4 separate regions of the Homo sapiens genome follow, and all the other regions are reported to be linked to region 1. Evidence: microRNA targets listed by miRTarBase, many of them from high-throughput screens and not tested one by one. Region 1 holds a microRNA gene; each other region holds the end of a gene's coding sequence.

The links. Region 1 holds the annotated microRNA hsa-miR-3913-5p (UUUGGGACUGAUCUUGAUGUCU, at 770-791, opposite strand). A microRNA usually pairs through its seed, bases 2 to 8, with sites in the 3' UTR of a target mRNA and lowers its output. Matches are read on the target gene's strand: a 7mer-m8 pairs with bases 2 to 8, a 7mer-A1 pairs with bases 2 to 7 and ends in A, and an 8mer does both.
Region 2: miRTarBase lists WWTR1 as a target of hsa-miR-3913-5p. Seed matches in the 3' UTR shown: 7mer-A1 at 1,446-1,452.
Region 3: miRTarBase lists THAP5 as a target of hsa-miR-3913-5p. Seed matches in the 3' UTR shown: 7mer-A1 at 1,042-1,048.
Region 4: miRTarBase lists DHDDS as a target of hsa-miR-3913-5p. Seed matches in the 3' UTR shown: 7mer-A1 at 2,130-2,136 and 7mer-A1 at 1,578-1,584.

Annotation. Positions count from the first base shown.
Region 1 is chr12:69,582,535-69,585,534 of GRCh38, reverse strand. It overlaps MIR3913-2 (microRNA 3913-2), which reads right to left and starts at 812; the gene lies at 713-812. CCT2 (chaperonin containing TCP1 subunit 2) reads right to left here and starts at 76. Exons shown (of 16, transcript NM_006431.3): 1 at 11-76. The coding sequence starts at 13. It overlaps MIR3913-1 (microRNA 3913-1), which reads left to right and starts at 712; the gene lies at 712-813. RefSeq lists an enhancer at 1-45.
Region 2 is chr3:149,518,252-149,521,426 of GRCh38, forward strand. It overlaps WWTR1 (WW domain containing transcription regulator 1), which reads right to left. Exons shown (of 7, transcript NM_015472.6): 7 at 1-2,738. The coding sequence ends at 2,554. Among named protein-coding and RNA genes, the nearest start is that of TM4SF4, 45 kb to the left of the region's middle.
Region 3 is chr7:108,561,341-108,564,340 of GRCh38, reverse strand. It overlaps THAP5 (THAP domain containing 5), which reads left to right. Exons shown (of 3, transcript NM_001130475.3): 3 at 1-2,209. The coding sequence ends at 150. Among named protein-coding and RNA genes, the nearest start is that of THAP5, 6.9 kb to the left of the region's middle.
Region 4 is chr1:26,468,812-26,471,986 of GRCh38, reverse strand. It overlaps DHDDS (dehydrodolichyl diphosphate synthase subunit), which reads right to left. Exons shown (of 9, transcript NM_205861.3): 9 at 681-3,092. The coding sequence ends at 2,856. Among named protein-coding and RNA genes, the nearest start is that of HMGN2, 2.0 kb to the left of the region's middle. RefSeq lists a silencer at 1-152 and enhancers at 1-231, 232-940.

The sequences.
Region 1 (3,000 bases):
TCAGGCTCACCATGGTTCCGAGGAGTTCCGCACACAAGTGAATCCCCTCACAGCTCGTGCTCGGGACCAGCGGACTGAAGGAAGCCGGAAGTGACGCCACACGCCCTACTTCGGGGGGCGGGGCCCCGGCCTGTCGTTACCGCCAGCAGGCGTCCCATTTTGATTGGAGCCCCACGGGCCGGAAACGCAGCCTTTCACACTGGAGGGGGCGTGGCCGCCGCTCCAGAACAAAGAGGCGGCTGCCGCGCGGGTTGCCATAGAAATGGAGTTCTTGCTCACACTTTTTATTTTCTTAAATTTAATCTTTAAACACTTCTATTAAAGTCACACATGTACACAGTTTAAAGTGTTATATACCAATAAGGAAAAACATAATTTATCTGCCTCACCACTTCCTGTCTCCAGGAAAACTGCTTTCAACTTTTTCAGTTTTTTGGAGGGGCTATTTACTATCATATTCCCAGATAATATTATTGCTATGTTAATTTTAAACATTATTTACTGAGTATTACAGAAGAAGACTTCCTTTTCTCTTACTGAATTTTCAGACGTTATTTCTAACTGGACGTTGACTGCCCAGGATAAGGTCTTGTGAACTGAGAGAGACATTTATAGTATTTTATCTTTGCCCTATTTACTCATTTTCAGGAATTTTTGCATTTCGGTCTTTTTTTTTTTTTTCCTCCAATAGTAGAGACGACTTATTAGTCTTTGTTTATAATAAACTGAAATATTTGGGACTGATCTTGATGTCTGCCAAAACCTTGGCAGACATCAAGATCAGTCCCAAATATTTCAGTTTATTATAGACAGTTTTCTACTTTCTCTAAGTTGACGGATGTCTAAAAATTTGTTCTCTAAAAAATTTTTCTGTCATCTACTGATACCCTCTTTTCTCCCTTTGACTAACTGATCGCTTAAGCTCCTCGGCAGGGCGCGGTGGCTCACCCCTGTAATCCCAGCACTTTGGGAGGCCGAGGTGGGCGGATCACCTGAGGTCAGGAGTTGGAGACCAGCCTGGCCAACATGGTGAAACCCTGTCTCTACTGAAAATACAAAAATTAGCCGGGCGTGGTGTGCATGCCCGTAATCCCAGCTACTCAGGAGGCTGAGGCAGGATAATTGCTTGAACCCGGGAGGCAGAGGTTTCAGTGAGCCGAGATCACGCCGCTGCACTCCAGCCTGGGCAACAGAGCGAGACTCTGTCTCAAAACAAAAACAAAACAAAACAAGCTCCTGGATTTTTCTTTTTCTGTTTTGTTTTTTTTAGAGATGGGGTCTTCTATGTTGCCCAGGCTGGCCTGGAACTCCTGGGCTCAAGCAATCTTCCTGCCTTGGTCTCCTGAGTAGCTGGGGTCTCCTGGATTTTTGACATTGCTAACATTAACAGGAATTTTCAATTTTTTAGTTGTTTCTACCCTTCAGATTTCCTCTAAGTGGGTTGATTTCCACCAGGGGTTGGCAAGCTGTGAGGAGTCAAACCCAGCCTGCCAGTTGTTTTTTGTATGGCCTGAGAGCTAAGAATAGTTTTTACATTTTTAAGTGGTTGAAAGAAATCAAAAATTTCCTGACACATGAAAATCCTGTGAAATTAATATTTCAGTGTCCATAAAGCTTCATTGGAATCCATGGGCATACCCATACATATTTACTCTGTCACAATACGATAGCAGAGTTATGTGGCAGAGTTGAGTAGTCATGACAGGTTGAATGGGCCCACAAAACCTAAAACATGTATTATCTAATTCTTTACAGAAAAAGTTTGCTGACCCTGGTTTACAGTATTCCTCAGGTCCAACATGAAAAGGGGAGTTCAGGCTGGACAAATTGTTATTTTAAATCTCCCAAGAGTTTTCTCTTCTTTGTAGGAAAATTTGGTCTTCTTTCAGGAAATGTACTTTCCTAGGCAGATCCCAAATCGCATTCTGGAATGAGAAGATTCACAATAAAAAACTAAGATGCCTGCACAATATTGAAAAAGGTTGTTTTTATTGTGGGCAAAATTACATACCTGGAGATATTTATTATGTCCTCTGGTAGGCAAGCCTGAGACTGTGTGTGATGGGGAAACCAATGACTGCTCCCTGCTGGGCTTTGAATGTAGCCAGAGGCATTTGGATGGGGAGAAGGAGGCAGGCCCTGCCACCTTGTGGAACTGAGGCTAGAGGCAGCCAGGAAGAGACTCTATGATGGGACCCTTGGAAATGTGTCCTTTCTCCATTGCATCTTTTGACCCTTCCTTCTTTCCTACTTCCCCCTCCTTTGATGACACCTCTACACCTAGAGGCTAAACACTCAGCTTCTAGACCCAGACTATATGAGTTTGAATTTCAACCATTTTACGTACTAGCTTTGTAGTCTTGGGTGGGTTTCACAGGCTCTTTAAATCAGTTCATTGAAGGCCATTCAGAGCGTGATCAATGTGCTGGTTTACCAAAAACTGTCTCTTTTAGCTGTTTATACTTTTTTGTTGTTGTTGTTGTTGTTGAAACAGAGTTTCACTCTGTCGCTCGGGCTGGAGTGCAGTGGTATGATCTCAACTCACTGCAACCTCCGCCTCCCGGGTTCAAGCAATTCTCCTGCCTCAGCCTCCCAAATAGCTGGGACTACAGGCATGCACCACCACAGCTGGCTAATTTTTGTATTTTTAGTAGAGACAGGGTTTAACCATGTTGGCCAGGGTGGTCTCGAACTTCTGACCTCAAGCAATCTGCCCACCTCAGTCTCCCAAAGTGCTGGGATTACAGGCATGAGCCACCACACCTATATATATATTTTTTAATTGAGACAGGGTCTTACTCTGTCACCCAGGCAGGAGTGCAGTGGTGTGATCTCCACTCACTGCAACCTCTGCCTCCTGACTTCAAGCGATCCTCCGACCTGTCTCCCGAGTAGCTGGAAATACAGGCATGCGCCACCACACCAGCTAATTTTTTGTATTTTTGGTGGAGACGGGATTTTGCCATGTTTCTCAGGCTGGTCTTGAACTCCTGAATTCAT
Region 2 (3,175 bases), not on the chromosome of region 1:
TAGTATTTTCTGATGCCACAAGCTTACTAGAAAATTACTTCTAAAAATTGGTAATATAAATCATCAATGATTTACCTACTTTAAAAAAGAGGGGTATCTGTTTCTCTTACATTTAATAACCTGAAAATGAGTCTATAAAAATATTTTTTAAAAATACAGTAACACTGCTGAGTTTTGTTAGGTCCCTTGTTTTTTTAATTTTTTATTTATTTATTTATTTTTAGCAAGAATGTACAATTCTTTTTGCAATTTTTTGCTAACAAAAGACAAAAAGAAATAGTGCTCCCTTCAATTTAGTAGCAATAAAATCATCTATCTTCATCTCTCTCAGAGGGCTTAGGGAGAGTGAAAGGAATTAGAGGAACATAAACCATGGGTCCTTCAGGTAAAATAAGTCATTTCATAGTGATGGAGGCAACAGCAGGCTACGCTCTTGTCTGCCTGTACGCTCAGCATCAGCATGCCCTGCCCCTCCTCCTCCCACATAAGGTGCACCAAAGCCTTCTTTTCTTCTACAACAGAGTCTTCCGGTATAAAGGTGGCAACAGAAAATTGTTGCTTTGTCCTTTTGGGGCATCTCTTGCATCTCCTGCTTGTTTTGCTTTTGGGGTACTATAACTTGTCTCTTTCCATTTCACAACTAGTATCCTTTCCACGATATTCCATAACTTTGCTACTTCATCTCTGACCTTTTCACTTGCCTTCTTTCCAACATGATCCAATGTACTCTGTACATGTATATTCCGGTAGATCAAAAGGAATCTTATTTAAGATCCCCAACAAATAAGTCCCCCATGGAAATTGAAAGTATCCTCTCAGAGACTCAAATTATTAAAGTCTTTCAAAAAAGATTAAATTCATAGATTATAAATAATATTAGTTCAAAATATTAAACAGTTGAGGACTTCATTGGCAATGCAGGCAGACTGCATGCCAGTTGAACATGATGCTCTCTCAGTCCTTAAAAGCTAATTAAAAATGGTTTTGGTTACATAAGAGGTATTGAATACATATTTCATGCCTTTTTATACCAACTGTAGCAAACAGGATTAGGATAATATACTTAGGAATCAATTTTACTGAATTCAGAAACATTTATCTCCACCATACACCCTCAAAGGGCATTTTTTTTTACATGTCAGTCAGAGATCTGCTTCATCCTTCAGTTTCATAGATAGAATTATTTTAAACACTTGAAATCTAGGAAGCAAACCTGACAAGGCTTCAGAATTTAAAAAGCAACAGCTCACTGTGTGTGGTGTGCTATCAGGTTGAAATCTATGTTGTCCTGATGTTTTCAGAGTTATTTCAAAAGACAAAAATACAGTTGCCACTGATTTATCAAAAACATTTGGCTGCCTTTTGTCATCAGCTACAAAATTACAGTGCTTTATAAAATAAACATCAAGGCCGGGTGCGGTGGCTCACGCCAGTAATCCCAGCACTTTGGGAGGCCGAGATGGGTGGATCACCTGAGATCAGGAGTTTGAGAACAGCCTGACCATTATGGTGAAACCCCGTCTCTACTCAAAATACAAAAAATTAGCCGGACGTGGTGGCAGGTGCCTGTAATCCCAGCTACTCGGGAGGCTAAGGCAGGAGAATCGCTTGAACCCAGAAGGCAGAGGTTGCAGTGAGCCGAGATTGTGCCATTGCATTCCAGCCTGGACAACAAGAGCAAAACTCGATCTCAAAAACAAACAAACAACATCAAGAAAAAAAAAAACCATCAGATTCTAAGCTGCAATTTTTTAAATCCCCAGTTGTAATATTTCAAAAACTTTTGTTTGAATAAAATGCTCATAATTAGTACCAAACTGGTCTCTTTCACAAGATCTGTAGTGTAAGACCTGTGACTAATGCTGCTGCTGCTACTTTCCCGCTGGAGGGACTAAGTTGTCTAGATGCTCTGCAGTAAAATAACGAAAGATAAGCTACAATAGGACTGTGTGCCTTTATAAATACAGACTAATAAGAGCCATCAGAGCCAGCATGGATTCAAAATTACATTGTATTCCATACAGTAGAATTTTACTATCCATACAATGATTTTTAAAGCTCAAGTTAAATAGTTTTTAAAGCATTTGGTACTACTGTCATCAATACAGTTTTTGAAACTGTAAATCAGGTCGAATTTTGTGCACATTTCCTGGACCAAGATGCCCTCAGAAGTAACTGCCTGTGGTCAGCTTTTTATGGTTTAAAATCAATTGGTGTATAAATTTCAATTAACACCCATAAAGCTTAGCCATGGGGCAGCAGAGAAGAAAGAGAAAAGTATTCTGCATAATCAATCCTGCAGACACAATTCTGTATAATCTGTCACAAGAACGCAGGCTTGCAGAAAATGAAAATAGAATATTTATTTATGTTTAACTTAAGTTACTCTCAATCAAAACCAGGCAATGATTAAACTGGCAACATAAAAAGGAGGGAGCACGAGTCATGGAGGCGGGAAGTGGTGCACCTGCAGACTTGCTCTGCTCCATCACTTTTTCCAAGAGGCCCAGGAAATGTAAGGTCATGGCTACATCCAAGTTACAATGGTAGTGATTACAGCCAGGTTAGAAAGGGCTCACTTTTGTTCAGAGCAGACTCTACATCATTGAAGAGGGGGATCAGGTCTTCAGATTCCAAAGTTCCTAAGTCAACGTTTGTTCCTGGAAGACAGTCAAGGAAATCAGGGAAACGGGTCTGTTGGGGATTGATGTTCATGGGTGTTTGTCCTGCGTTTTCTCCTATAACAAAATGAAAAGAAACCATTTTAATTCCTTCTTTTAGGCTCTTGAAGGAGGAACAGTTCAAGTATTTACATAACCCTCACCTTCATGTCTTCAACTACCACATTATTGACCCTTACTCATAAGAGGTACAGAGATGTGGAAGAAATCGAAAATTATTTCTGGATAGGTGTGGTCCAGAATGGAAAAGGCCAAGGAGATAAGAAAGGAGCATGTGAAAGGCACTGTGGATCTGATCTATGATCTGTGCCTTCCCATGACAAAGGTGTGAAGAACTGTTTTACAAAAGAGTAGAGAGGCCTTGTCTGTAATAAACAGCTTATTACAGAACTATAATCTACAGGTTTCATTGTAAGCTTAGGTTTACCCATACCATCCTTCTTTATGTTCAAAGAGAATGGTGTGAAGCTTCTTTTAACCAGGCTATTAAAAAG
Region 3 (3,000 bases), not on the chromosome of region 1:
CTTCTAGAGTTAAAAGAGCAACAAACTCTAGGTAGATTGAAGTCTTTGGAAGCTCTTATAAGGCAGCTAAAGCAGGAAAACTGGCTATCTGAAGAAAACGTCAAGATTATAGAAAACCATTTTACAACATATGAAGTCACTATGATATAGAATAACTAGGTTTTAAAACTATGGCTGTTAAATAAGCTTTTTCCAGCCAAACCAAACTACATGTAAAGTGAACTGTTTCCTGTATAAAGTTCTCATCTTAATGAACCTATGAGAGTGTTGTAAAGTTATGAACTGTATCCTATTCTTGTAATACTTATTTAAGAAAAACCAGAGAGTTGGGCTGGAGAGAAAAGCAGTTTTATTACTTGATAATTTTCCAAATTAAAATTTAGCACATAGAAGGATTCAGTTATAACATGAGAAAACAAAGAAGTGTTCAAAGAGCACAGACTAGAAGTCAGGTTCAGGAATCAGTCCTGGTTCTACCACTGGCATATGACTTGGGCAAGTTACTTATGATTGTGCCTCAGTCCCTAATTTGTAAAATAAGCACTTACTGGATTTGTAATTGGTTATTTATAGTCCCTTCCCTTTTTATTAAGATAATTCTATTAGAACACATTTTCTGTAAGATAATATATACGTAATACTAGAAGTTGGCTAGAATTTGATGATATTAACCATGTATTATTTTCAGTATTTATTGAATTCTGTGGTCTTTGACCTTTTGGCTATAGTTACATATTACAGTTATATTATCTGTAATAGAAAGGAAGATAAACTTTTTTTTTTTTTTTTTTTTTTTTTTTTTTGAGATGGAGTCTCACTCTGTAACCCAGGCTGGAGTGCAGTGGCCTGATCTTGGCTCACTGCAGCCTCTGCCTCCCGGGTTCAAGTGATTCTTCTGCCTCAGCTTCCCGAGTAGCTGGGATTATAGGCACACACCACCACATCCAGCTTATTTTTGTATTTTTAGTAGAAACGGGGTTTCACCATGTTGGCCGGGCTGGCCTCGAACTCCTGACCCCAGGTGATCCACCTACCTTGGCCTCCCAAAGTGCTGGGATTACAGGCGTGAGCCACCGCGCCTGGCCAAGATAGAACTTTTATAATTTTATTCCAGTTGAACTAAACTAAGGAACCACCCATTAGCCCAGTTCTTAGGAGAGGTACTTCAAACTTGAAAGAATATGTATTTCGGTAACTTATATGTGGCTAACCATCAAATACATAGTCATCTAAGCTAAACTTTCTGTATTTATACAGTTAAACTTATAAACCAAAAATTTTAATGAGGTTAATTTTAAATATATTTTAGAAATTACAGTTTGTATCTGTTTCTTAGTAGGTGTGGCCTTTAAAATATGTGCTTATTCATTGTTAAATTCCAGAATAATAGAGTAATACTTAATACTGTACATTCCCACTTACGTATATTTTATTAAAATTTATAAGCAAGAAATTATACATAAGTGGTCATGATCTTAGGGAGACAAAGAATTTCTCTTAGAAAAGAGAAGTAATGGTAATGTAAATAAAAATACTGTTTATATTCACATGATTTTAAGAAAACTGTAAAAGCAAAGATTTTGTAGTAATGACACAAATGTAACAAATAGATGTTTTCTTAAAATTGGCAGTCAGTATAATTATGTTTCTGCCTATGATGTTGAGGAAGTTGTATCAGTCTGATTCTTAGTTTTTTCATCTGTTAAGTAGAACGTACTATTACTTACCTTAAAGAGTGGCTTTGAGAATTTTGTAAGGAACAAACATGTTTTTGGTTCTGGAATATAGGAGGTGCTCAATAAAAGTTGACTCTGACTGGCAAATAATATTGTTTTGTAAATGCATGATGATTATTTTTGGCCATATTTGACTTAGTTTCATTAGGCTAATATTAATTGGTACTATATGAAAGTGAGTCAACTAATTATAAAAGATTAGAAATGTCTTAGGTGACGATGGGGGAAAAACTTAAAATTTTTGCATAAATTATGGGGAGATGATAGAGTTATTACAGTGTTATTAAGTATTCCTATGTTGCATTTTGCAAATACTTAATTTAATACAGATGAAAATAATCTTGAGTCACAATAAAGTAATGATATGTTAAGTTTCAACAGTGTACATTGTAGTAATTTTCTGAAAGTTACAGGTTCCTCAGAAAAAATTTAAACTAGCTTTATTTCTTTAATAAATTATAAGTAAAAGTTGACTATCTGAAAATCCAAAATGCTCCAAAATCTGAAACTTTTTGAGCACAAACATGACACGCAAAGGAAATGCTCACTAGGGCATTTCAGTCTTCAGATTTTTGAATTGGGGATGCTCAGCTGTTAAGTGTACTGCAGATATTTCAAAATCTGAAAAACAGTACCCTTTCTGTATTCACGTCCATCCTTACTCTGACTTTCTGGACCATAATAATCATTCTCCGGTAAAACTTTGAACAACATTGCTCTGTTGCCTATTGTTCTCACTTGCCTAAATTACATTCCTGGTTGAATTCAAATATCTCTTTGCCTTTTCTCTTCCTACATCAGAAGAGCCGGTAGAATAGAAAAAAATCACGATTGGACAGACTTGATTATAAATTCATGACCACAAATCAGATGAGCCCAGCAGTGTTACTGTATTTTTCTAGTAAGTTCATAACCCCACACTCAAATTCTGTCTCTCACTCCTCCCTTCCTTTCCTGCCTCTCCTTCCCGCTTGCCCAAGATGAGGATCTCATCACATGCTTCATTTAGAAAATCAAAACAATCATTAGCTCATCCTGCCAGTTGCAGTGGCTCATGCCTGTTACCCCAGCACTTTGGGAGGACCAGGTAGACAGATTGCTTGAACTTTGGAGTTAAAGACTAGCCTAGCCAACATGGTGAAACCCTGTCTCTAGAAAAAAAAAAAAAAAAAAATCAGCCAGGCATGGTGGTGCGTGCCTGTATTCCCAGCTACTCAGGAGTCTGAGGTGGGAGGATTGCTTGAGCTCAGGAGGTAGAGCCTAC
Region 4 (3,175 bases), not on the chromosome of region 1:
AAGTGGGAAAAAGGCGGGGAAACCAGCTTGGCGCAGCCGGACGTGCATCCTTCCGAGCTGCCACTTCGGAGAAGCCTTTCGTGCACCTCACCTGAAAGACGGTCCCACTCGAGGTGGGCTAGGGGTTTCAGGGGGAGACTTTCCATGCAGAGGTGCCTTTTGGGTGCCGTGGGTCAGGTAGGAGCTGTCCTTTCAGCACCCGTTGCGCAGCCGCCTCCCCAAATGCTATCGAAGCCCCCACCCCCAACTCCTCTCGGGTGGCTCCCTTAAGGTCCCTGTATTCCCAAACCTCCAGACCCCGCCACAGTATGGTGGAGAGCGGCCGTCGAGGTCTACCAGCACTCACTTCCCCCTACACTCTACCCCTCTCGGAGACATTTTGCCCAGCTGCCCAACCCGACGCGGCCACCAAGCCTGGGCACTGCAGCCGCAGCTGGCGAAATCCCTCCTTCCACACTGTCAAGCTGGCTGCCTTTCACTTGCGCGAGGAAAGGAGGGTGGAGGAAAGCGCCCGGGGATTAGGAAACAAGTAGAGGAACAGGTGGTGTGATGGCAAAAGGGCTCTTCCGGTGCCCCCTAGTCCAAAGCCAGGGTCTTGGAGCTAGCCAAGTGCACCTGAGGGAGGGTAGGCAATTGCAGCAGCAAAAGAAGGTGTTCTTCCGTTGCAGTTAGCAAACAAGTTTTACATCTAAGAATCTTTAAAAATTCTATTTGAGACCCAGCACACAAGAATACGATAGATGTCCTCAAATGGGGGCTTGGCTCACAGGTGGAAGGACACTAAATTGGTCCCATCTGATTTCTTGAGGCAAGGGTTGAACCTGGCTTGCACAAATCACACCTGTCCAAAGCAACCACGAGTTCTACTATTTTGCAGCCCTTGCTGCTGGGCGACGACGACGACCTCTCTGCCTCTTCTTTCCACCACTACATCGCCTCCTGGGGCAGCTTCTCCCTACTCCACCCTGTGTACCTTTCCCAGAATACAGAACCTCAGGCCAAAGAGAGATGCCAGCCCCATTAATCACCTCTACTGTACCCCAATCATATTACGGAAAGTCAGACCCAGGAGACAGGACTCAACAGCCACGCTCATAGGGCAGATTCCGTTTGCTGCCTCCAGCCCCTCATTCCCGCCTTAATTGTAGGGCTCTGCATTATAGCCGCATAATTCATGCCTCCCTAATTATGGCTGTCAACAGCCCCATTGTAAAGCTGTAAAATGTACAGCACCTGCTCTCCAGGAACCCTGTGCCAGGGATTGGTAGAGGGGAGTGCCAGGTGTGGATGGGGGCTTTGCCAAAGGGTTCACTGATTGGCTTCTCAATCGCCGTGTCTGGCATTTATGCTTGATTCTGGGAGCATGGACAATAGCCAAGAAGTCTCTTGCCGCCAGGTATCCCGGGACAGAAAGGGGAAGAGGCGGGTGGGGTATAGGAAAGTTAGGGGTTTCCTGTGTGCTCTTGCTACAACTTGCAAGATTTCACCTCTCCCCTAGAGGGAGCTGCTAGGGAAACAGCTTGCAGAAAGTAAAATGGGAAGTCTGGCATGGTGGCTCATGCCTGTAATCCCAGCACTTTGGGAGGGTGAGGCCGGCGGATCACCTGAGGTCAGGAGTTCGAGACCAGCCAGGACAGGGTGAGATGCTGTCTCCAAAAAAAAAAAAAAAAAGAAGAAGGAAAATGGACTTTAAAGAGAGTAGCATTTGGTTGGTGTTGCTGGCTGGTACTTGCCGGTGTGGGGCACCTGAAATAGAGTTGCTCAGGCAGACAGCTCTTCAAAGGCACTAATCCTCTCAGCAGCTCTGCAGCAAGTCCTGGCAGAGGGAGGTAAGGGAAAGGACACAGCTTTGACCCTCACAAGCAGAGGACCTAGAACAAGCTTTGCCATGCCAAGAATAAATCATCTAGGGCCTACTTAGGGAGCCAGGTCAAAAAGCTGAGAGAAACCTCGAAGAGTGGAGTGGGAATCAGAGTTTGAGATGGTGAGGGCAGGGAGCAGAGTCAGTTGGAAGAAGTGTTTGGTTCTGCTCAGTCCTGTTGTGTTACAGGGGAGGCCTGTGCTGGATTCAGTTCACCAGGGCCTACAGGCCCTTCTGTTACCCTGAACCATGGAGGGGGCCAGTCTCATTTGGGAGTGGAGCCTGGCCCCATGCCCTGCAAGAGGAGGAGAAAAGCTTGTGTGGGCTGAGTCGACAATAGGTAATTGGATTGTAATCGCCCGCCTGGCTTCCGCGCACCATTGGGGGTGCTGAGTCTTTCAGTGAGCAATCAGTACTGTGTGGTGGGAGAGGGTAGAGATTCAATAGCAAATCCCAGGTGGAGAGCCAAGGGGGAGGAGCAGCAGATGGGCAAATTTTCTGTCTCTCCCACCCCTTTTTTCCTTACCCAAATAACTGCCTGCCTATTAGTTATTTACTAGCAGATCCAAGGTAGAGCCAAATCTTTTGTGGAAGCTGGGTGGAAGGCTAAAATGGAAGGGTAAAGAGCTAGGGTTTTGGGGAGAACTCTTCCCTGAAATTCTGTGTGTTGAAGGATGTGCTGGTGGAAAAAGAAAGTGCATCTAAGAGACAGGCAGCTGATGAGTTGTGGCCCTTTGCTCTCCAAACCCTATTGGTGACCAGACCTAGGTTTAGTGTACTCGTGGGAGACTTTCACCCTCAATCCTCCTCAGGAGCCTGTCCCAGGCAGCCCAAAGGTATCTATGGCCAGCAAACCTGGCCTGGGGGGCTCCCCAGCCAAGCAAAGGGAACACCATTCATTATCAGGAAAGGAGGTGCCTTTCACCAAGAAAAGGAAGGGGAGTGGAGCCCTGGAGGCAGAGGGCAGGGCAAAGTGGCAGGTGGCCAGCCTCATTCAGGCTGATGCAGTGCCCAGACGGGCCAGCCAGTCAGCTCGCTTGAGTTCCAAGGCCTGCAGGAAGCCTTGGACTCGCTCTTCCCGTCTGGCCGAGAGTTTGTGCAAGCGTGTCCTTCGGAGCTGGGCGTCCCCACTGGCTTGGAGCCCCTCTCGCAGCAGCTGCTCTGTCACTGTAGCCTGGTCCCTCTCCAGCTGCTGCCTCTTCCGCTCCTCTGCATACATGTCTCGGGCCTTCTGCTAGAGAAAAGTGGGGATTGGGGTGGGGAGATCATTTTTAGGAGTGGGTGAAACTGGGATGGAGGAGGTAGGGGGTGGGG